Linked DNA regions of Homo sapiens. The protein of the gene in region 1 purifies or fractionates together with the protein of each later gene. This does not show direct contact. Each region holds a gene or a part of one and is shown on either strand. Other genes may lie near its edges. The genes, in order: LDAF1, REEP5, MB21D2, COP1, RAB2B, MLYCD and ZNF518A.

Region 1 (3,500 bases):
AATCATAATTATAATATTGTATAATTATATTAGATATATTATACTAATATTAGTTATCAATATTCATATAGCATTATTATATATTATATAAATATATTATATTTATATATGTATATAATTATAATATGTATTATATTATTTATATATTATTTATTATAATTATAATTATTAAAAGCATTATTATTAAAAGCATTATTAAGCATTAAAAGCTAATCACTTGTCTATTAGTAAGCATTAAAAGCTAATCACTTGTCTATTCACTTGTCTATTAAAAGCTAAGCTCAGCATTAAAAGCTAATCACTTGTCTAGAGTCGCACAGCCTCCAAGTGGCAAAATCTCAGCATTAAAAGCTAAGGCCTGGCCAGCATGGTGGCTCATACCTGTAATCCCAGCACTTTGGGAGGTGGAGGCAGGCGGGTCACCTGAGGTCAGGAGTTCAAGAACAGCCTGGCTAACATGGTGAAACCCTGTCTCTTTTAAACATACAAAAATCAGCCAGGCATGGTGGCGCGTGCTGGTAGTCCCAGCTACTAGGGAGGCTGAGGCACGAGAATCGTTTGAGCCTGGAAGGCGGAGGTTGCAGTGAGCCAAGATGGCGCCATTGCACTCCAGCCTGGATGACAGAGCAAGTCTCCTTTTCTTTTCTTTCTTTCTTTTTTTTTTTTTGAGATGGAGTTTTGCTCTTGTCGCCCAGGCTGGAGTGCAATGGCAAGATCTCGGCTCACTGCAACCTCCGCCTCCCGGGTTCAAGCCATTCTCCCGCCTCAGCCTCCCGAGTAGCTGGGATTACGGGCGCCCCCACCACGCCCAGCTAAGTTTTGTATTTTTAGTAGAGACAGGGTTTCACTATATTGTCCAGGCTGGTCTCGAATTCCTGACCTCAGGCGATCCACCCGCCTTGGCCTCCCAAAGTGCTGAGATTACAGGCGTGGGATACCGCGCCCCACCGCAAGTCTCCTTTTCAAAAAAAAAAAAACAAACCTAAGGTCTTGGACTCAGAATGTCCAATGCTTGCAACAGCTGCCACCACATCAAGTAAAAATGCTTTTATGTCATCAACCTGGTTACCATAGTTGGCCACAGCCTGTGACTAATGCAAGTTTATGTTGTGTTAATAGTTTATTTTCCTTCACCGGGCAAAAAGGAATTTTCGATCTGACTCAATGGAGGGAGACTGCTTTAACGCAGAGCTGGCCATAGGCAAATCCGCAAAGATGGGTTTCCCCCTCTCCTCCTTAGGCTCCACGCCTTCTCTCTCCTCAGTACTGGTATTCTAGATCCTGTTCACTTGAAAGGAACCATTATTCCAGAACCTCCTTCCATCATAACTGGTCCTTCCTGAGCCTCATCCCTACGGCCTTGCAGGCCAACAGATGAAAAGAAGACATAATTCAGGTCCCCAAAACACATGTGCCTCCTAGGAAGAAGAGTTTACCCAAGTGGTTTAAACAGTGGGATTTTCAGGGCGAGTTGGAAGGCAGGAGGGGTTTGTGGTTCATGCTGAAGGAACTAAAGTGCAAGCTGCACCCTGCTTAAATAAAAGAGGCCATGCCAAGAAGCCACAGCCATTGGTCTTGGGCTTCAGCGTGGTCTCCTAAGGATTACTCTCGAGGCATGGCCAATTTCACTCCCTGCCAGGCCACAGGACGGCATAATGCCCGCTGACCTCACTGCCTCCTGCTACCCCACCATTCTGACAAAAGCCACCAAAGAGCTTGCTATTCCGCTTCTCTAGCCAGAGATGACTGTAGCAGGAATCACCTTGGAGCCAGCACTGCCCAGCCTGGACACTCCATCATCAGAGTCCAGTGAGATCCTGCTGTGTTGGGGCAGCTGAAAGAGAAAGAGAGGCGGAGGAGCCGTGGGAGTCACCACACAGAATGTGGGCTGGTCCCTTGCGCTGTCTCAGGTCCTGACTTCTTTCCAGTTCGAATCCACATGCATCCTTATTTGATGCTCCCTGTGTCACCTGATCTTTACAATCCAAAGAACCACAGTGGGGAGAGCAGATGGGCTCTCCAGGAAAGGGAGGCAGCAGTACACCCGTGAGTATGCTGCGCCAGCGAGGGAAGGGCTGTGCAGCGGAAGGAACTTGTGAGGCTGGGACACCAGGACACTGGGCTTGCTAGCTTATCCCCGGGCTGTCCATCACAGGCCACCTGCGCCATTCAGCACTTGAAATGCTCCTCCTGTGACTGATGGCCTGGATTTCCAATTTAATTTAATTTAAATTTTAAAGCTGAGACTTGATTCAGTTGTTGGAAAAATTTTAAGTATGTTTCCAATAGGTTGGGTATGTGAATCTATTTCGCTGAATTGTAAGTTTTATAAAATCTGAATAGAGATTAAATATTTCCAATGAAAATTTGGCATCAGAATTGAGATGTGCTTTAAGTGTAAGAAAAAAAAATGCAAAATATCTCATTAATACTTTTTTATATTACCTGTTGAAATTATAGTGTTTTGGATATATTGTGTTAAATTGAGAATATATTATTAAAATTAATCTCTGGCTGGGCACGGTGGCTCACACCTGTAATCCCAGCACTTTGGGAGGCTGAGGTGGGCAGATTACTTAAGATCTGGAGCTTAAGACCAGCCTGGTCAACATGGTGAAACCCCGTCTCTAGTAAAAATACAAAAAAATTAGTCAGGCAGAGTGGTGCGTGCCTGTAATCCTAGCTACTTGGGAGGCTGAGGCGGGAGAATCACTTGAACCCGGGAGTCAGAGGTTGCAGTGAGCCGAGATCACGCCACTGTACTCCAGCCTGGGCGACAGAGCGAGACTCCATCTCAAGATAAATAAATAAATAAAATTAATCTCATTTGTTTCTTTTTGTTTTTAATGTAATTATTAAAAAACTTAAAATTATATATGTGGCTCACATAATATTTCTGCTAGACAGCACTCATTTAAATTTCATCTGGGAAAAAAAAAACAGGGAACAAACTGCTGTCATTTGAGCAGAACTATGACATGATTAAAGGAATGATTTAAGAAATATGAACCTAGCAATCATGTGCAAGAGGCAGGTAGAAAGATTTGCAGGAAATCAGGCAAGATATACTGTGGTCAAGTCCAGGCTGATGGCAGAGAGGGAAGAGAAGGGGGAGGGGTAGATGGGTATGAAAGTGGAATGACAAAAGAAGGAATACACAGGACTTAGGGACTGTATGGCACAGGGATATAAAAGGAAACAGGCAAGACTGTTCCACTTCAGTCCTTAAGGAATCCACCTTTTTCTTAGCCTTTTGTTTTTTTGAGATGGAATCTCACTCTATTGCCCAGGCTAGAGTGCAATGGCATGATCTCGGCTCACTGCAACTTCCGCTTCCCAGGTTCAGGCGATTTCCAGCTAATATTTATATTTTTTAGTAGAGATGGGGTTTCACCATGTTGGCCAGGCTAGTCTCGAACTCCTGACCTCAAGTGATCTGCCCGCCTCGGCCTCCCGAAGTGCTAGGATTATAAGCATCAGCCACCATGCCCCGCCATTCT
Region 2 (3,500 bases), on another chromosome or scaffold:
ATGAAGAACAACTGTAAAGATTCCTTGAAGGCTAAGATCTACCCAAAACTGAGGTCCACCAAAGGAAGAATTCAGGAATGGACAAGGTATTTTTTCCATAATAGGATGAATAAATGTGATAAACTTACCAAGATAAGCCTACCAAGCACAGGCCTCCTAGATATTAGGCTTATCTGTACAGGGCTTTATACATGCAGATAAGTACTATATTTTCTTAAATTGATTTCTAAGAGTTATGATTAATAAAAGCCTCTTACAGCTATATACTAAAACGTGGTCCAAGTTAGGAAGATAGTTAAGCTCCTGGACCTGGTGTGTTTTACCTTTTGTTTTTTAGTCTCAGCTTTTCCTTACCAGCTCATTACTCATCATGTTTTTTCCATCTAAAGAAAGCCCACCTTTAACCTGCAGAAAACACTGGTAATGCCTTTGGGGAAAATAACAGAGGCATCTCCCATCCCCAGAGTAGTGAAAGACAGTGTGTATTCTCAGAATGTGCCCCCTCCACCCTCCTGTTACCCATGCTGGCTCTTTTTCTGTGCAGTGTGGCTTCCTGTTGTGGTGCATGGCCCCGAGCCCTTCTAATGGGGCTGAACTGCTCTACAAGCGCATCATCCGTCCTTTCTTCCTGAAGCACGAGTCCCAGATGGACAGTGTGGTCAAGGACCTTAAAGACAAGGCCAAAGAGACTGCAGATGCCATCACTAAAGAAGGTAAGACTCAGGAACAAGATGGCCCCACATGTGAGAGGAGATGTGACACACTGGGCTCAAATAACAGGCTTCCTGGCCTTCTTGTCTTATCACCACCCCTCAGCCAAATGCCAACATTACTCTGGGATTTCTTTACAAAGTCTTTGCCTATTGAGAACACTTACAGTTCTCGACTTTTCCCAAGACTCTTCCTCCATGCCACATTTAATGTAGCCTTCAGTCAGAACATTAGGAAAAATGACTTTCCTTGGTAGGCAGCGATTTTAGAGAATCATCTATATTGATATGCAAGTCCATCTCTTCTAATTGTTTATTTAATTTTTTTGTATTATACTTAATTACATAGGTAGTTTTAAATAAATGGAGAAAGCACCTTTCAAAAGCTATACTAGCAGGAAAAATTCCATCAAGCATTTACGTAGTAAATTTCTATAATTTTACAAAAAATTCTTGATCTTTACTTGAACTGTACATGAGGGGAAAAGAGCCCCCTCAGGTATGTGTTCTCTCCACTTGCAGAAGAAAACTAAAGGACCTAAAACTAGAGACAAGCCTGGGATGCCAAAAAGCGGGAGGAGAAATGATAAAGAGCCATTCATGAATTCCATGTCTACTCTAAGACACTTGTCTAATCACCCTCACATAATAAATATTTAGGGCAAACTACCACTCTTTAGAAAAAGTACAACCTCAAAACCTATAGTTCTGAATTGTAACATATCGAATACCTTGGACTGCTGGATGCCAAAAGACAATACTTGGGGTTATCTATGACGTTTAAACAGGTAAATAGGGGAATTCTCTAGGACTGTACACTCTGTGACGTTTTGAATGAAGCGCAGGCAGGCTTCTCTGCTATCCTCCAGGCAGTGTAATAGTCAAGGAAAAGAGCAACAGTATTGGATCACTCCTTAGACACTAACCAGCTGGTGAAAGAGTTCATTGGCCAGTCTCCTCCTTAGAATGGTTTGCACCAAGTGGAGAGGCCATGTCGCTGAAGGGGAAAGGGGAGCCCTCATACCCACAGTCACTGTAAACATCCAGTAGACAGGAAGATGGCTTCGGGCAGTGGCTGGATGGAAGTAGATTGGAGATACCCAGGTCTGGAATGAAGTCATCTTCCACAAAGTCTTCCTTCACTGAGACCACGAATTCTGGGTGATCATTCTCTAAAAGGCTGAGAGGTGCTTCCTTGATTTTCACTACCGCATTAGCTTGGCTCTCTGTCTCAGACTACGGGCTTGGCATATATGTAGTCAAAATTAATTAGTTCATTAATAGCTTCAAGCTTGGCTGATAATGTCCCCACTGACAGAGAAAGGGAGGCTGGTTAGGAATTGGGTCCTTCTGAGTAGACCTCTGGGAGCTGCTCCAGGCTGGCAGACCCTGGGGAAGGACATTTGAAGAACACTAGTGGGTCTAAGTTGTCCAGAATGCCCAACAGGATATCATACTGGGAAGGTAGTTGATGTTTACTTCCAACCCCACCACAACTAACTTCTACCCTCATCTGCCTAGTTAGGGATGTCAAGCATCAAATAGATGGAATTATCTTGGCTTTCGCCTCCTCTTCAGTAACCAGAGCATCCATCCCCAAGTGCTGTCTTCACTCATGGTTCTCAACTACGAGTCCATGCATTTTCTCTTGTAAAAACTGATTTTCTAGCAAAAGTTTTTGGTTCTGTTCTAAATCTACCACTTGCTGTTTCAGGTCACTCATTTGAGCTTGCTTTCTGTCTCTGGCAGTTTGAGCTGCTAATCCTGTTTTTCCTCCTCAGTGCCTTCTCCTTGGGGCTCCCCACCCCCACAGCACTCACCATCTCCTGGCTGGCTCCTCTCTGGGCTGGCACCATGAGCAGCAGGGCCTAGCTGGCCAAGGCTGTAGCAGCAGGCTGACCAGACAGAAGCAGTACTTTGGAGGCCCTGACGGCCAGCCTGATTCAGTTCAGATTGATCGGTTCAGTATGCTGTTCAGTTTTTGTTATGGGTACAAAAGAATGTCCACTCTCAGCTCTGATTAATTCACTCAATAAATATTTATTTATTGAGGTGTTTAATATGTGCCAAGCATGTTCATAACACTGGCAGTGAACCAGCATACCGAAGAGACCATACTCCTTGAATTCATGAAGCTTACAGTCTAGTTGAGAGATAGGCAGTAAAATTGAAAATTAGATAGTATATTTACCATATAATATAGGGAAAAAATAAAGCAAGTAGAAAGATGGGGGGGGGCCAAGGACTGGAGGGATGGTTATGATTTTAAATAGAGACGTTTAGGAAATCTATACCAGAAGGCTCTACTGAATCAGACTCAATAGTAGTAAAGGAATCAGGAACAGTGACTCAGCCTGTAATCCCAACATTTTGGGAGGCTAAGGCAGGAGATCACTTGAGGCCAGAAGTTTGAGACCAGCTTGTTTGTGACAGGGTCTCCTATGGAGACCCGCTCTCTACAAAAATTTAAAAATTAGCCGGACGTTGTGATGCAAGCCTGTGGTGCCAGCTACTCAGGAGGCTGAGGCAGGAGGATCACTTGGGCCCAGGTAATCAAGGCTGCAAGTGAGCTGTGCCACTCTAGCCTGGGTTACAAAGCAAAACCCTATCCCCCTAAAAAAAAAAAAAAATAGAAAATGGTAAAAGAAGGAACCATGGGGAATCATACTTTAGAATGAGCTGCATATACAGAAGTCCGGAGGTGGGAGCAACAAAAGAAGTGATCTAGAGGGGTGCAGGAGGAGATGAGGTGGAAGAAGTTGCGAATGGAGGCTGGAAGACGTATCACAT
Region 3 (3,500 bases), on another chromosome or scaffold:
GTCCCAGGTGGAAGAACTCCACTATTACTTTCCAGGAGCAGACAGACATTATCTGCTCATTAGGCTCAGCAGCTTGGTTCTAGTCTCAAAAGTCAACTGGGATCATGCTCACTGTGCCTAGAACAGAGAATGCAGAACATCAAGCCTAACACAGGACAGGATGTTGACATGCTGAGCAGCTTGTTGGGGGATCTCTAGGGAATTCGGATTCAATAGGTCTGAATGGGACCAGAGATTTTGAATTGTTAGAATCTAATATTTCTGTGAATTAAAAAGGGGCTCAGCCTAACTGTGAGCAATGTATTATCCAATGAGTGGCATGACAAGGAATGACAGGAAGACCCAGGACTGTCGACAGTTCTAGGCCTCTTCTCTCAAGGACGAAGGGCAGCCACTGCCCAGAACCATGGAGGGGGAATTGAAACCAATCCAAACTAGCACAAAAATGAATGTTTGGAGAGATCCCCTGCCCTGGATACATAATGTTCTCAGAGATAGAACAAACTTCCGAGATGATCCTGTGCACTCTACAGATGCAGCACATAGTGAATACAACTCTCGGGAACTTTCCAAGCACATGGAGGCCCATAAAACACCAACGCACCATAAATTTCCATGGTAAATCCTGCTGGGGGAATTCATTAACAGAAAAGTAGCAATCAAACACTGGAAAGGTAGGGCTTCAAAATTACCCACTCTGGAGATGTAGAAAGTGCCTAAAAATATGGTAGGTCCAGGAGCACCACACCAAGCATTTACATCTTTGAAATGGCCACATGGCACTTATTGGCCTGAAAGGAGAAACAGCCAGCAAAATATCCTGCTAGAGTTGGTGGGCAAAGGAAACAGGGGAGGGGTCCCTGAAGGCCCTTATGAATTTCTCAAAGTTTTTGTTCACCATTTTATCTTCAGAACCCTGCACGCTGATTGGCAAACACTATTACATTCATTAAGTATTTGTCAAATGCGTGAAAAAAACAGAGGGAGAGAAAGAGGGACAGAGACAGGAAGACAAAAAGAAATTATCTCAGGCGGGGCATGGTGGCTTACGCCTGTAATCCCAGCACTTTGGGAGGCCGAGGTGGGTGGATCACCTGAGGTCAGGAGTTCTAGACCAGCCTTGGCCAACAACATGGTGAAACCCCATCTCTACTAAAAATACAAAAATTGGCCAGGTGTGGTAGCGGGCGCCTGTAATCCCAGCTACTCGGGAGGCTGAGGCAGGAGAATCACTTGAACCCAGGAGGCAGAGGTTGCAGTGAGCCAAGATCATGCCACTGCACTCCAGCCTGGGCAACAAGGGCAAAACTGTATCTCAAAAAAAAAAGAAAAAAGAAAAAAAGAAATTATCTTTGCTCCTACAGACTAGGCAGGCTACTGAGTATAGTATGTCTCACCCAAAAGTGATGGAAACTGATTGCTACTACAGTAAAAGGAACATGAGCTTCTGAGTCAGGAATAACTGGATTCAGTCTCCAACTCTGAATGATCTTGGCCTAAGTTCTTGACTTCTTTCTTTGAGCCTCACCATTTCATCTTTAAAAAGGGTAACAACACCTATTTCACTTCCAAAATAGGCATGATACTTATGCTTACAAAGTTGTGGAAAAAAGATTACATGAGCTAATGGACTTAGGCAAAGTAGCTAGCACAATGGTCAGCACATGGTATGAGCCAAAATCCTCCTGGGCTACCCTAATTGTACTGCATAGTTCTTTCAGATGTCAAGCTGCAGAAATAATTCCAATTTAAGTTCACTGGATCTTCTAAGAAAGTATATTTTTATCCCAGCACTCTGGGAGGTCAAAGCAGGAGGATTGCTTGAACTCAGGGGTGTGAGACCAGCCTGGGCAACATGGCGAAACCCTGTCTCTACCAAAAATACAAAAAACTAGCCAGGCGTGGTGTTACACGCCTGCACTCCTAGCTACTTGGGAGGCTGGGGTGGGAGGATCACTTGGAGCCCAGGAAGTAGAGGTTGCAGTGAGCTGAGACTGTACCACTGCACTCTAGCCTAGGTGACAGAGCGAGACCCTGTCTCAAATAAATAAATAAACAAACATTTATTTAAATAATAAACTCACGTATATATTCTTTTTTAGTTAGCAAAGTAATTTCACATTCTGACATAACAGTTCTGAAAAACAATGCTTACTGTTATCCATGTTTAATAAATGAAAAAACTGGCCAGGCATGGTGGCTCATGCCTGTAATACCAGCACTTTGGGAGGCCAAGCCAGAAGGATCACTTGAGGCCAGGATTTTGAGACCAGCCTGGGCAACATAGTGAGACTCCATCTACACAAAAATTTTAAAAAATAAAAAATTAGCTGGGCACGGTGGTACACATCTCTAGTCCTAGCCACTAGGGAGGCTGAGACAGGAAGATAGCTTACGCCTAGGACTTTGAGGCTGCGGTGAGCCATGATCATACTATTGCACTCCAGGCTGGGCAACGGAGCAAGATCCTGTCTCAAAAAAAGAGAGAGAAAATACTAAGACCACAAAGCCAACAAGAGGCAGACTGGGAATGAAACTATAGATTTTAACATTTTATTATAATTACTATGATTTTCTCAATCAAAAATTCAAATAGGAGATCTTATTATAGAATACTTGAACTCAGACTGTTCCAGAAATCTACTTATATTACGCTAAAACTTATAGCTAAAATCGAAACAAAATCCTGAAAGAAGTGATTTTTTAAAACAAAGCCTTTCCTCTGGATTTTATGCATCTATTCTTAATAGTCTCAAGTAGGAGAAGAGGAACATGTTTTAGAGTAAGGCTGACCTGAGTTTCAGTAGCATCTCTACCATCTATTAGCTTTGTGACCCTGGATATCCACTTTCTTCACCCCACTAAATTTCAATATCTTCATCTATGTAATGGGAAAGCAATACCTCCTCAAAAGTCTATGTGAAGTTCCTGGCCCTGAGAAGATGATTAGTAAATGATTAACTACCGTAAAAATCATGCCATGGTACCGACCACTTGGTCTGTAGGTTAGGTGACGGCTTGTTTCTTTCCTGCCTTCTCCAGCATCTGCATACCCCCTTTTCTGCATCTGTTCAATGGGGACACAAACCAGTCTCTATCGAACCTCACCAGGGAATGAAGATAACAAAAGAGCTGGCAGAGACATTATGCTAATACCAAATATTATTAAAACATTAATGAACTCTGGCAATTTCCCTGAATTTTGATAAATGGTGTTTATTATGCACTGCCAGCCTTTCGCACAGTCTGGGCTCTCAAATATTAACTAGATAATAACACCAATCATTCTCCTAAAAGACCAAGGTACAGAGGAATAAGAAGTGAATCTAGACAATTGCAGCTAACACCTGCCTCCAAAAAAAAATCAGAATCTCTGTACAAACAGAGAGCATCAGGACAGACCCCAGAGACCACAGTGACCACCAGCAAGCTCAGATCAACCCCACAGCCTGTGCAGAACCCTACTTTGATAAGACAGTGGAGTGTCTTGGTGTTGACAG
Region 4 (3,500 bases), on another chromosome or scaffold:
AGTAGCCTCAGATAGAATACAGATCTCAAAATGAATAAAGCAAGAAAAAAAAAAACCTGATATCAATTTATTGTTACGGGGAGAGGGAAAGACAACAGGCTAGAAAACAAATGAAAAGCAAATAAGATGTTGATATAAAGTACTTCCAAAACTTTTTATACATTTACCAAAATTATTGCTTTTAGAAATTTACCTGATACATTCCATAAAGACCGAAGTCTGAAGAAATGCTTTGGAAAAGCATATGGTACCAAAAGTGGGAGACAGGAAAAAAAAGCATTTGGTATTGCATAGGTGTTACACAGGTATAAAAAATACTAAATAGTGACTTCAAATCTGTAATTATAAGGCACATGAAGTTCTAAAAGTTTTAACAAACCAAATGTATGATTCATATAACATGTAACTAGTACCCTTATTTACCTGATAGACCTTTGACCTCTGTCCTGTGAATCCATCCCATAAAATAACAGTGCCTTCATAATCACTGCTAGCTAACAGGTTCTTATGGTAACTACTCCAACTGATACAGCTGAAAGAAATACAGTTAAAAGTTACTTTACATAAAAATAAATAACAATGGGATAAAAATAATTTTAATGTGTTCAGAAAGATTTGCACTATTTTAAAATGGTCTCTATCAGTTCACAATCATTATTCTGCCCACAACATACCTGGGAAAAGACATACCAATAATTTTGAAATTTTAAAAATAAAAATTAACAAGTAATGACCCTAACCACCTTTTACTGTGATCACTAGCTGTTAAGATGGATGTGAGCCTAGAGCTATCACTGGCCATCTTTGATACATGAGGAAACGATGTCTATCAGTGAAGGTGATACTATCCAGAGGGCTCAAGGCATACCATGGCAGAATGACAGACCTGATGAGACTGTTTAACCCCCTGGATCCAGTTGTGCCAAATCATATAAGCCAAATAAACTACAGTGAATTGGGTTTCTGTATTTACATCCCAAAAGTCTTGACTTGACTAATTATAACTTATGACTAAAATTCCAATTAAAAGCATCTAAAAGTTAGAATCAAACTTTTATCATTTATGGTTTTGGCTATTCTCAAGTACTCCAGAAGTCTACAACATCTAAAAACTTCTGCTGAGATACATATCTGCATCACGCATATAGTAAAGGGAATGCATATTATGGAAGAAGTTACTTAGAAGGCAGTTAATGTAGGTAACTTCTAAGACATGAACACAAGGTCTTTTGCTTTCTACTAGTTGCATTGATGCTAAATTCCAGAGACTGGAAGAGTTTATTTGCATTTTTAAATATACTTAATTAGAATTTCTGGTAGAAATTATCTGGAACAATTAAGAGACACATTTTGAATTTAGGTAGACTTGAGTTCAAATTCCAGATCTGTTACTTATTAGCTGTGGCTCTGGCTAATTTAGTACACTTTCACAGTAGATGTGCTCCGAATCTATTTTAGGCATCCTTAGGTATTGATCCTTTCAGCCCCAGGCCCACAGCTTTCAGCCTTGAGCGCTTTCACCATTTATTCCAATATATCAGGAAGTATTGCACATTTTTACACATACAAATACAGAACAGGTAGACAGCACATTTAAACTTTCTAATCCACGTTTTCATTATGTAATATATTATGAGTACTTGCCATGGGCCAAGTGTTGTTCTGAGTGCATTATGGGGATTTTTTAAAAGTACAATCCTATTAAATAAGTATTACTATTGTGACCTCCATTTTATAAATAAGGAGCAGGAAATGTTTAAGGGCACAGACTCTAGAACCAAACTACTTCAGTCTGAATCCTGGCTCCTCTATATAGCAGGTGTATAATCTTAGGCAGGTTATTTACCTTCCTGTGCTCAGCTTTCTTTGTATAAAATGGAGCAATAATGGTAACTATTTCATAGGTCTGCTAAAGACCAAGCACTTAGGATAATGCCTGATATATAAGAATTCAATAAACTTGTATCTAATTCATGTTATATCCTCTTCACTTAGGACATAAACTATAACAGATTCTCAATGATGAGTGCCACAAATGAATGGGGAAGCTCACCAATTATCGATATAGTATTTTTATAAATGAACTAGAAAAAAGAAAGTTATAACAAATAAATTATACAAAGACTGTAACAAACATACTATGTATGCCATTCATTAAAGATAAAAAAGGTTCAAGGATGGCTATTTTGAAAATGTTCAAAGTTCTATACAAAGTTATTATTAGATGATTTCCTCATATAATTCTCTTTTAAAGCCAGTGCTCATGAGAACAGCTTGGGAAGCTTGTTTAGAAGGAAAAAAAAAAAAAAAAAAGCAGATTCTAGAATTCTTCTGAGATTTTTTGGGGAGCAGATCAGGAGTAGAGTCTTAACATACTGTTAGTGTTTAAGAGTATTTTAGGTTTGAAAAGCACTGCTTATAAAGTATAATCTCTAATACAGAAAACATAAACACCATTCCTTCAGTGAAAAGCAGAATATTCTTGTAAAAAAAATTCTTAAAACTAGAAACAATTCTAATATGTTGAGATATGTGCAGGCTAGGGGAAAAATTCCTGATGTTCAAATACTATTCATAAGCTACATTAATCCTCATTCAGTACTCCATAGAGTCTCCAACAACCATGTCCAACAAAGACCTTTATTTGATTAAGTGAAAGAAGAACTTTAATTTGGCAACCAGAAAAAAAAAAAAGGCTAACCTCACAAGAAAAAAGCAACCAATATCTGTAAGAAAGATGATATAAGTAATAATATATACTCTGTATACATAGTACAATAATAGTGTTCACCATGAGTAAAAAGTGTCATGCAAAGGTAAAATAATCTCATGATAATTACATATGCAAATTGTTACATCTATACTGCATCATGTCAAGAAAATAATGTAAATACCTGATTTTCGAATTGCAGGTCATTTCATTCTCAGGGTAATGAATATCCACTGCATCCTGGATGACAGTGTCATATTCATAGACTTTAATCTTCTTTGTAACTCCAGCAATCGCAAAATAGTCACAATCCCGGTCAAATTCAATACTAAGGGGAAAAAGTATGTAATGACAACATTTCAGAATTTGCTATTTTCTATTTCTAAAGTAATTCGGTCTACAAGGATAAAAGATCTACTTTAAATACCTTCAAATTGTACTAGACCTCATATCCAGATTAAGTAATCAACACATATCAAATTAAAAGTTGTTGAGATTTGTGTAATATAAAACTTTTAATATATACATTTGTATATCTACACAATTGTGCACAGGTGTACTTTTGTTCCAAGACACCTGACATGCTTTTCATTCAGTTCTAATAACCATATTACAGCTTACTGAGAAAGATTTAATGGCGTGAATCATTTGATATACTAAAAGTATGCCAAAAGACAATTATCAACTAATTTTTCCATACATTCTACTTATTTCCCTGCCATTTTGTGGAGGTAGTAGAATTTCACAATATTAAATTTTATTTTTAATAAATAAATTAGTATATAATTTG
Region 5 (3,500 bases), on another chromosome or scaffold:
GCAGTGGCACTATCTCAGCTCACTGCAACCTCCGCCTCCCGAGTTCAAGCAATTCTCCTGCCTCAAGCTCCCAAATAGCTGGGACTAGAGGTGCGTGCCACCACGCCTGGCTACTTTTTGTATTTTTTCAGTACAGACGGGGTTTCACCATATTGGCCAGGCTGGTCTTGAACTCCTGACTTTCTAATCTACCCACCTCGGCCTCCCAAAGTGCTAGGATTACGGGCTTGAGCCACCACGCCTGGCATATTTTTTCTTTTTTTTATATAGGGTCTCACTCCTGTTGCTGAGGCAGGAGTGCAGTGGTACAATTACAGCTTCATTGCAGCCTCGACCTCACAGGCCCAAGTGATCCTCCCACCTCATTTAAAAATTTTTTTGTATAAACAAGGTCTCACTATGTTGCCCAGGCTGGTCTTGAACTTATGGACTCAAGCAATCCTTCCAGAGCTGGGATTACAGGCATACGCCACTGCGCCTGGCCTTTTTATTTTCAAACAGTTACTAAGCGGTTATAAAAAATACTCATGTTGTTTGGGTATAACTATTTAACAAAACTATTAGGTATTTCTTTTGGCCTATGGGTGTCAAAAAAAATTTACTGATAATAACCAGTGTTGTTAAGGATGTAGAGAAACTGGAATCCTTGTACATTGCTGGAAAGAATGTAAAATGAGACAGCTGCTATGGAAAATGGTATGGTGGTTCTTCAAAAAATAAAAGAATTACCATATGATCCAGCAATCCCACTTCTGGGCATATACCCAAAAGAATTCAGAGCTGGGACTTGAACAGATCCATGTTCATAGCAGCATTATTCACAATAGTCAAAGGATGGCAGCAACCCAAGTGTCCATGGACAGATGGATAAACAAAATATTGTGGTATATGCATACAATGAATATTACTCATCTTTAAAAAGGAAGGAAATTCTGACACATGCTACAATATGGATAAACCTCGAAGACATTATGCTAAGTGAAATAAGCCAGTCACAAAAGCACAAATATTACATGAGTCTACTTGTATGAGGTACCAGTAGTAGTCAAATTCATAAAGTAGAATGATGGCTGTCAGGGGCTGAGGGATGAGGGGGATGGGGGAGGGAAGATGGAGAGTTAGTGTTGAATGTGTATAGAGTTTGAGAAGATGAAAAAGTTCTGGAGATGGATGTTGGTGATGGCTGTGGAACAATGGATATTCTTAATGCTACAGGACTGTATGCTTAAAAATAGTTAAAATGGTAAATTTTGTGTCATATATATTTTATCACAACAAAATTTTTTTTTTTTACTGAAACACTAAGACCACTATAAACTGAGAAAGTTTGGGGATCAATGTGCATAGAGTACCTAGATGACTCCTGTTAACTATTATTCACATGGATACAATTTTACCTCTTATTCCCAATGAGCATGATAACCATGTTGGAACTAGAGTGCTGCCGGGCATCCTCTAACCATGAGGTCAGGTGGTTGAAGGTTTCACGCCTACAGCAGAAAAATTTAGAATGTGGGTCAGAGACACATTTCAAAAGGCCAAAACAACTCCAAGCGTATACGAAAAGAGGGGAAGCCATACGTGTAAAGAAAAATATTAGAGAGGCCATTCCTAGTTAACATCCTTAACAGAATCAGTAGATAGAAAAAAAAAAAAAGCTTTAGAGGATTTAGGGAAGAATCTCCCTCCCATGCACCAGATCTGGCTCACCTTGTAATGTCGTACACCAGCAGTGCTCCAGCTGCTCCCCTGTAGTAGGAACGGGTGATAGAACGGAAGGATTCTTGCCCAGCCTTTCCCACCAACATGGCAACAAAAAATCCCAACAAAACCAGGTTATTTCCACAGAACCGACTTGATCACATGCCACCCTAATACAAAGGACTTAACTAAAAAAAGAATTTCTATTACGAAAAGAGAATTAGGGAAAGAAAACATGCCTGCCCGAGAAGAAACCCAAGTGGGAAATCAATATTTTTCTATGGGAGTGCATTGATATTTTGGGCAGTCACTTACTCTTCCTGAGAGACTGTCCATCAGATTAGTGGATGTTTAGCATCCTAGATCCCAGTCACTAAATACCTGTGGCACCCCAGTCAGCACGATAAAGACGATGAAGACATTTGCATACATTTCCCAATATCCTCATAAAAGAACAACTGGAAATAGGACTGGAAACGGAGTGTATGTCATTTTTTTCAATCCCAAATATGATATTGAACACACCATATTAATCTTTCTGTTCCCATTTCTTTATCTGTAAAAAGGAAAGTTATCTTAGAATGCCAAAACCTGGTCTAATAGAAATTTCATTCCAATGAATCAATATAAAAATTAGATTAAAAGCACTTCAACTGATTATCTTCTAACTGACCTTTAGTGTTCCACTGATAATGCAAGACTACCTAGATGTCCCTTGCTGGGCTTCTGTCATGGGAAATAGGAATAACAAACAGAGAAAGAAGCCCAGGGCCCAGCATAGAGTTTTCCTAGAAAAATCCAAATGTTCACACTCTAATCTCATTTCCAGTTGGACAAAGATATTAAGTTCTATTTAAAACTGAGTAATTTATTAATGCCCCCATAATACTGGGTACTTTTGCTTTCTTGATGGACTAGTTCTTTTTTTTTCCTTTAGGGAAAACAAAAACATTTTTTAAATAATATGAATACCCTGTACATTGAATCTATCCTATTAAGAAAGTTTTCACATTCTTGAAATAATTTATCCTTACATCCCTACATAACAGGAGGTAAGACTATAATTTATAGGTTACAAATGGGAGAATCATGATTAAGGATGTGGGAAAATAAATGGCTTTCTCATAGTATAATACCAGTAACAGTGGTAACACTAATTATAACACTGCAATAGTACTATAAACTACTTTTTGGCATATAAAATGTGCTACGAACTTTAAGAGACAATTACATATATTATTTCATTTACTTCTCTTAGCAACCCTGGGGCCGATATTATTATTCCCTTTTTTTTTTTCTTTTTTTTTTTGAGAGGGAGTCTCGCTCTGTTGCCCGGGCTGGAGTGCAGTGGCGCAATCTTGGCTCACTGCAACCTCCGCCTCCCAGGTTCAAGCAATTCTCCTTGCTTCAGCCTCCCAATTAGCTGGGATTACAGGCGCCCACCACCATGCCTGGCTAATTTTTTTGTATTTTTGGTAGAGATGGGTTTTCACTATGTTGGCTAGGCTGGTCTTGAACTCCTGACCTCATGACCCACCCGCCTCGGCCTCCCAAAGTGCTGGGATTACAGGCATGAGCCACCGTGCCTGGCTTATTATTTCCTTTTAAAAATGGGGAAAATGAGGCTCACACAAGTTTAATAAACGGCCCCAAATCATAAAGCTTATTAAGTGCTAGAGCCATAATTTAAACTTAGGATCTTAGTACTTCCTAGGACAAAAACTTGTCCTCTTAGCCACTATATCATATAACCTAAACTGGGGTTTGTAGGTGAGAAGAGAATTCCAGTATACTAACTC
Region 6 (3,500 bases), about 63 Mb from region 1:
CTCTTTCACACACAAACATTGTAAGGGAATGTGTTTCTCCTTGGTGATCAGGAATGTCTGCTCATTTGCCCTACTCAGCTTCTCTAACTTCTCAGCAGGACACCTGCTTAGGGCACTCATCTTGTGATGGGCCATCATCCACTTAGCTTCCTAACAGCCACTCATGTCCTCTTGGTCTGAGCAAACCTGCAATGCCCCAGGGGTCTCATGCTCCCTGCCACCTATCTTTAGCACTCCTATTTCCAGACCCTGCAATGTGCTCCCTGGTTCTTCTGCCCCCACGGGCCTGCAGGAGTGTTTCAGACATTCTTGCCAAACTCATCCAGGAGCAGAGCAGCTTGCCACAGACGGGGCTATCAACCACAAGTCCCATAACCTCCACTCGCCAAGGAGTGTCCTCGGCCCACATCAAGCATAAGGGATGGAGTGCCTCTTTCAATTTTCTAATCAAGTATCTTTCAAAACTCCCCACAGGCATTTAACAAAAGCTGTAAAGGTAAACTATGTATGAATCAGGTATCTGTCCCTTCTTCCTTCACAATTATTTTCTGCCTCACAAACATGTTCTGTGATAGACTTTAACTGTATCTCAACCTAAGATCAACACAGCCAGATGAATGCTCGCCTTGCTCCATAACTGTCTGCCTGTTACACTTCTACGCTCTACACCTACAAATCTGGAGATTTTATTTAACCAATTTAAAAAAGCCCAAAACCATTTATTTAAAAAAAAAAAAAAGGAGGATAAAATCAAGTAAAAACAAAACAAAACAAAAAACACAAGGGGCTCTATGGGGTGCCCATCTTGTCCCGAATTGACCATCGCAGGTACCTGGATGTTGCTGGAGATGTCACCAGTCAGTGCCACGTGCAAAACGACCAGGGGCTCCCCAGGGGTCGAACAGTGAGAAAAGAAGTAACACCTTCTGTAGGGCCCAACGCGGCGCTTCATGTCCATCCAGTTTTTTACAGGATGCACAGCCTCAGCCCTGGGGCGGAATTTATAAAGAGACAAGACAAATGCATAATTCACAAGCAACGGCTGCTGACTCCTATTCATACTATTCGTCTAAGTCAAACAAGTTCTTTAAATAGAGCTTTAATGGACTCTTCTGGAAAATTCAAAGAAAGTCATTTTCATGAGAAACAGCACCCACTGAGAGGAACTACAGTGAATGACCATTTTACACACAAAATTGTGCTCCAGTTTTAACCCCAGTTTTAAAAGGAGTTTGTGAGGCTCCGGGGAAGGATTCATGCAGATTTTAACGTGAAACCTAATCAAACGCTTGGTGTTGAACACTGTCTTTTCTTTCCTTGGGATCTCTGTGAAGCCGTCAGTGCTGCAATCAGGGGGCTCATCTGGTGTCTTCCAGCAATCTCGCCCCACCGCTATTTTGTTTTCAGCATGTGAAATGGCAGCAGGCACTGTCAGCCCTTTGAATTGAATTGGTTACATTTCAAATAGGACACTTTTCAAACCATGGATTCCATGGGACAACATGTAATGTGAAGATGCCTACGTGCAAAGGTAGTGAAGGCACCGTGACATGCTAGCCTGTGTCATACGGGTCCTGGATGTAACTAACACATGATATAGTTTGTTTAGAGATTTTAACTCAGGGAGAAATCTTAACCACCAGGTGGGCTAAATACTGTTTTGATTACGAATGCAAACGCTTGGTCCAGTGAGTTTCTACAACTCTGATCACGGGGTCTTGGGACGAGCGAAAATGGGTGTGTTTGCTTTAAATAAGAGGACACAAATAAGACCTCACACGCAGGTCACTGACAGACATATCAGTTTCTCTTGGTGCCCTTTCGTCTTCCTCCATAATCTTAGTATCATGTGTGGTGACAGCCGCAGCATTTGCAAATACTGTGTTTGGATTTTATTAGACTTGAAATAAACTGTACATATGAATGGAGATAGATTAGCTTTTAGCCAATATAAAACATACACAAATATATATGAAAAATGTATGTACAAAGAAAATGAAAACCGTAATACTTACTCACTGATTTTCTGAAGCACTTCACACGGTGAATGCCAGGTAACCCGTTCTAGGTTCAGGAACCCGGAGGAAAACCATTCTGAGAGCATTCCTTTCAGCACCCCATTCATTTCCTGAAAAGGAGAAGATAAATCCCAGGCCTCCAATGTGCGACAGATCAAGCCCATCTCTGTGTTGTGGTCAGCACAAGGAATGAAAACACTCAAGCACGATACATAAGACAATTGTGCAAGACAACTCTCCAAACAGCTTTTCCCAAGATTCCTCTGTCAGACATCTTATCTCAAACCAAGTCAGGCTTTCTTTCGTTCAACGCTCTATTTAGACTTAACTACTTCAGTCTGTTAAGACCTCTGAAGGAAACAATTCAATTTGAACTAAGTTGCCCAAATCAAATAATATCTTCCAATTCGTTCACCATAGTGAGCATACTAATCATATAAAATCAACATAACAATGAAAGATGCACTGTAAGGGAAACACTAAGACAGCAAGGGTGTCAACAGCACTGTCCTCATCCTCTCGGGAACCTTCTTTGATACGTCAAAACATTACGCCTACATTTCCTAAGAAAGACAAGTACTTGGTTCAGGAACCCTATTTCATCAACTCAGAGATGTACATTTTCATATTTTAACATCTCTCAAGTCAGGATGCATCTTTCGAATGATGGCGGGTCACAGACTAATTGGCAGCATTTTTGTTTTAAGAGACGGGGTCTCACTCGGTCACCCAGGCTGGAGTGCAACAGCATGAACACGGCTCGCTGCAGCCTTGACCTCCTGGGCTCATGTGGTCCTCCTGTCTCAGCCCCCCAAGTAGCTGGGACTGCAGGTGAGCGCCACCAAGCCTGGATAATTTTTTTTTGTCTTTTTTGTAGAAATGGGGTTTTGCCACGTTGCCCAGGCTAGTCTCGAGCTCCTGAGCACAGGCAATCTGCCTGCCTCGGCCTCTCAAAGTGCTGGGATTACAGGCGTCAGCCACTGTGCCCCGCCGTAACTGGCAGCATTTTTAACCTACCTTAGAGGGACATAAAATAATAGCGTATCTGGCAACCAATGCATTTCAGAGTTGATGAAATTATCCTAATTTTGCCTCACTTATTTATATTGTATCTACTTCCAAAAATGATGTGAATTGACTTGACCACCCAAGATACATCTGCACTGAAGCTTTTCCAGCAAGAGCAGAACACAAGGCCCTGAGCAGGAGCAGCGTCGCCTCGGTGCTGCCTGCACAGCCACAGCTTGTTGTTCCCCGATGGCTGTACCCCTTTTCTTTCAAATTAACAGAAGCCTCACTTTTCAGCTAGGGACACAGCTGTCCAGAACAAAGATTGCACTGCGGCTGGGGGCAGCCATGTGACAGAGTTCTGGTCAATGAGGGGTAAGCAGAGGTCTCCTGCAGCCACTTTGGGGAACTTGAAAAGACAGCAGGAGCAGGCCCTTGGCCCATCTTTTTCTTTGTCCTTTCCACTGCAGACTG
Region 7 (3,500 bases), on another chromosome or scaffold:
TAGTGTCCAAAGTCTGGGGCTGCAAATTAGCAGTACCGTCCTTTGCAGCACCTGACTGTGAGCCTGGTGAACATACATTTTGTTTGATAGGCACCAATTTTAATACAATATGCTGTTTTCCATCCATCATCTTGAAGCCCATAAACGTAGCATTATAGTTAGGGGAAACTGCTAGTTTATTATTTTTCATCATTACATTTTTCAGTGTAGGTCCTAGTACAGCAGTCTTCATGAAACCTGAACTAGCGTTTGGTCCCTCTTCAGCTCTATTACCTTGCCCAGTGGACAGAGGAGTTGGCTTCTCTGACTCTGATTCAGGGGCTTTATCATTATTCTCACAGTGTAGTCTTTCATCCTTTTCTTCACTTAAATGCTCTTGAACAACATGGCTCTGGTCTTCAGATTTAGTCTGTGTTTTGTTCATTTTCTTAAGCACTTGAGTGTTCTTTTCTATACTTCTGTCACTTCCACTGTTAATTTTCTTACGTTTCCAGAACGTCTTCCTTGATGCACCTATTTTATATCTTTTCAGTATTAGCTTAAGTCCTGCAGAAGTCTTTGCCATTCTTTTTTCATATTTGTCTTTTTCCAGTTTTTCTTTTGCATATAAATGTTCTTTGTGCAAAGTTATAACATGTCTTACAAGGTGTTCTCTCCTGGTGGCACCATAGCTACAATATTGACAAGTGAAGGGAAAAGTACCAGAATGAATATGAAGGTGCTTCTGAAGCTCTCCTTTGGTAAAACATACATGATGACATTTACCACACTTATAATGAATTTCATTATGTCTATGAATGTGCTGAACAAATGTGCCAACATCCTGGGTGGAGAACTTACACTTTTCACATTGAAAATTACCATTAACACAATGTGTGGATGTGAAATGCTTTGTCAAGTTCAGTAAAGTATATACACTCTCATTGTTACAAATGTCACATTTTACTAAAGTGCTTCTATGGGTTCGTCTGTGTTGTTTAAATACCTGAAAGTCATTTGCTGAAAAGTTGCACATTTCACAAGGATATGAAGGTAATTCGCCATGGTGCCACATTTGAAAGTGTTTCTGCAAATCATTTGGGCTATATCGAGTGTTGTCTCGGCATTTTAAACAGCTGAAATTGAGTATTTTTGCAGACATTTTTACACCCTCTTCTTCAGCTCTCTCAGACTTATGAAGCAATGTACACTCCTCTACACAGCTTACAGTCTTTATACTGATAGATTTTCTTGCAGTCTGCTGTTTACTCTGAAATAATTTTCTGTATTTGTCAACTTCATGTTTCAATAGGACTTCATTTGGAATATTTATTTTTGGCAAATCAATTTTCACATTTTTTAGTGCATAATGAATACTTCCTGAAATTTTTGGTTTAGGTGCCGACCTATCAACTATCTCATTTTTCACATCATAATCTTTTTTTAAAGTAGTTTGTTTTTCATCACAAAATAACTGTTTCTGTTCAGATGGCATGATTTAACCAAAAAAGTCCCAATTTCTTTTTTTCTGAAAACTCTTGAAGTTATCTGTAATTTAAACAGGAAACGATACTGTGTAGAGACATCTTCAATATACAGGATTTTTCCCACAATAACTCACCTAAAATTAAACAAAGAATTGAAATTCTCATCACAAAAATAATAGTAAATTCGTATCTGTAAGTTCATTTTGGCACAAAGTAGGAATGTTAATCAAAAACATAAATTAAATATACAAAAGACTTTTTAAGTATTTTAAGAACAGCTTACCAAGAAGTAATAGTTTGAAGTAAAAATAACACTAATCTGGAAGTCAGGAAATGCAAGCTCTAGTTCCAGCTCTGCTGTGTGACCTTGGGAAAACTTCAACTTCTCTGGACCTCAGTTTCCTCATCTAAAGAAAACCACAGTTGGGTAAGTACGCTCAAGCGCTAAGATTTTTATATTAAGGTGATAATACAGTTTTTAAACAAGATTTTAAAAATCTTAGAATCCTAAGAAGTTCCAATTACACACATGTGGTTTATCCATATACTATTAACTTTTTCATTTGCTTAGTTGATCTAATAGCTATTCCCTGTGAGAATCCCAACAGACTTCTCTCCAGATTTTCTATTTCCTTAGTTCCTCAGGGATAATCTACAATTAAAACAAAAGCTTCATTCATCTAACGGAAACAACCAAAGACGGTATCTGCTTATCATTACTAACAAGTTAGAAACCAAACAAAAAGAACAAAAAGGAAGAAATTAAAAAGAACAGCAGCACCATTTCCCTAGTGTAGTCCTAAAGTCCATCTACTCATTACCTTTCTGGTTCCCTACCATTTTGGCTATATGAATTTATATCCTCAGAACTCAAGCCAGATGACAGCAAGGAAAAGCCCTTGGCAGATTAGAACATACCCATCACTACCTACCTGCATTAATTCAAGCACTTACTGGTCATGTTACTTTAGACAAGTCTCAACCTCTGTGTCTCAGTTCCTTCATCTGTAAAATGGGGGGAAAAATTAGTACTTCCCCTATGTCTTTCACAAGGTTGTTGTGAAGATAAAATGAGAAAATATATGTAAAAATATCCTTTAAAGTGCCATATAAATCACAGCTACCACTATTACTCTATGTGATTACCACGTATGGGACATAACAATATATTGTTGAGACAGGAATCTGAATACTGAAGGTTCAGTCATTAATATATCAAACTGTATTATTAGAAAAATTACATGTTTTTAATTTTGTGCTTTATATATATATATATGTATGAATAGACAAAATCAGATAAGCTAAACAAAACATAGTATAAATCACATTAAGCTCCTCATCCATAATGTCTATCCAAAGGTCTCAGCTTTAAACTTCAATTAATCTAAATACCTACAAACTTTACTGTTTTAGAAATCCTTTACTGAGGGAATCATTAAAAGTTGAATTACATATTAAGAGATCTATAATAAATTAATCAGAAGGGTACCAATTATTGAATTGTTTTACATGCCATGACTAATACAGTAAAATGTGAATCCAGAATGGGATGTTTGTCATAAAACTTTAGTATTACAAAGAAAAGGTAACACAAGATGAAGGCCTCATGAAGGGTTTTTAGGGCCCTAAAAGAAGAAAAGCTGAAAAAGTAACTGGAACTGTCAGGAAACCAGGAGAAAAGGCTGAGAAGAATTATCTGATGGCTATTCTTAAACTAAGATGGGGCTTACAGATGATTTCAGAATGACTAGCCAAGCAGAGCACTTGTCTTTCTAGGAGAATGAACTAGACACTAATTGAAGGCTCTACAATCCAACAGTCAGGTTTTAACTCACTGCTTTGTTAAGAGAAAAGAAAAGAAAAAAAAGAAAAGAAGGCAGGAAGGAAGGAAAAAAAAGAAAAGAAGGAGGGAGGGAGGGAGGAGAAAGAAACGAAAGAAGGAAGGAAAGGAAGAAAGGAAGAAAGAAACAGAGAAAGAGAAAGAAAGAAAAGATTGATGACAGGGTCTCACTCTGTCGCTCAGGCTGCAGTGCA

Evidence for each region.
Region 2: the proteins of LDAF1 (region 1) and REEP5 purify together in Homo sapiens (co-immunoprecipitation; one large-scale study listed by IntAct). This does not show direct contact.
Region 3: the proteins of LDAF1 (region 1) and MB21D2 purify together in Homo sapiens (co-immunoprecipitation; 2 studies listed by BioGRID and IntAct, with this or other methods). This does not show direct contact.
Region 4: the proteins of LDAF1 (region 1) and COP1 purify together in Homo sapiens (affinity purification with mass spectrometry; one large-scale study listed by BioGRID and IntAct). This does not show direct contact.
Region 5: the proteins of LDAF1 (region 1) and RAB2B purify together in Homo sapiens (affinity purification with mass spectrometry; one large-scale study listed by BioGRID and IntAct). This does not show direct contact.
Region 6: the proteins of LDAF1 (region 1) and MLYCD purify together in Homo sapiens (affinity purification with mass spectrometry; one large-scale study listed by BioGRID and IntAct). This does not show direct contact.
Region 7: the proteins of LDAF1 (region 1) and ZNF518A purify together in Homo sapiens (affinity purification with mass spectrometry; one large-scale study listed by BioGRID and IntAct). This does not show direct contact.

The regions. Positions count from the first base shown.
Region 1 is NC_000016.10:21,165,174-21,168,673, reverse strand, and holds part of LDAF1 (lipid droplet assembly factor 1), read right to left. Parts: intron 1,835-3,500; coding exon of another isoform or gene 1,763-1,834; intron 1-1,762. UniProt on the Homo sapiens protein: Plays an important role in the formation of lipid droplets (LD) which are storage organelles at the center of lipid and energy homeostasis. In association with BSCL2/seipin, defines the sites of LD formation in the endoplasmic reticulum.
Region 2 is NC_000005.10:112,884,228-112,887,727, reverse strand, and holds part of REEP5 (receptor expression-enhancing protein 5), read left to right. Parts: intron 1-544; coding exon 545-713; intron 714-3,500. UniProt on the Homo sapiens protein: Plays an essential role in heart function and development by regulating the organization and function of the sarcoplasmic reticulum in cardiomyocytes.
Region 3 is NC_000003.12:192,911,357-192,914,856, forward strand, and holds part of MB21D2 (nucleotidyltransferase MB21D2), read right to left. Parts: intron 1-3,500. UniProt on the Homo sapiens protein: Probable nucleotidyltransferase that catalyzes the formation of cyclic dinucleotide second messenger in response to some unknown stimulus.
Region 4 is NC_000001.11:176,043,287-176,046,786, forward strand, and holds part of COP1 (E3 ubiquitin-protein ligase COP1), read right to left. Parts: intron 3,039-3,500; coding exon 2,895-3,038; intron 533-2,894; coding exon 424-532; intron 1-423. UniProt on the Homo sapiens protein: E3 ubiquitin-protein ligase that mediates ubiquitination and subsequent proteasomal degradation of target proteins.
Region 5 is NC_000014.9:21,466,960-21,470,459, forward strand, and holds part of RAB2B (ras-related protein Rab-2B), read right to left. Parts: intron 2,258-3,500; exon of another isoform or gene 2,250-2,257; coding exon of another isoform or gene 2,227-2,249; intron 2,221-2,226; exon of another isoform or gene 2,134-2,220; coding exon of another isoform or gene 2,083-2,133; intron 1,794-2,082; coding exon 1,711-1,793; intron 1,491-1,710; coding exon 1,398-1,490; intron 1-1,397. UniProt on the Homo sapiens protein: The small GTPases Rab are key regulators of intracellular membrane trafficking, from the formation of transport vesicles to their fusion with membranes. Rabs cycle between active GTP-bound and inactive GDP-bound states.
Region 6 is NC_000016.10:83,905,615-83,909,114, reverse strand, and holds part of MLYCD (malonyl-CoA decarboxylase, mitochondrial), read right to left. Parts: intron 2,129-3,500; coding exon 2,016-2,128; intron 990-2,015; coding exon 833-989; intron 1-832. UniProt on the Homo sapiens protein: Catalyzes the conversion of malonyl-CoA to acetyl-CoA.
Region 7 is NC_000010.11:96,154,297-96,157,796, reverse strand, and holds part of ZNF518A (zinc finger protein 518A), read right to left. Parts: intron 2,472-3,500; 5' UTR 2,421-2,471; exon of another isoform or gene 1,874-2,420; 5' UTR 1,750-1,873; intron 1,601-1,749; 5' UTR 1,475-1,600; coding exon 1-1,474.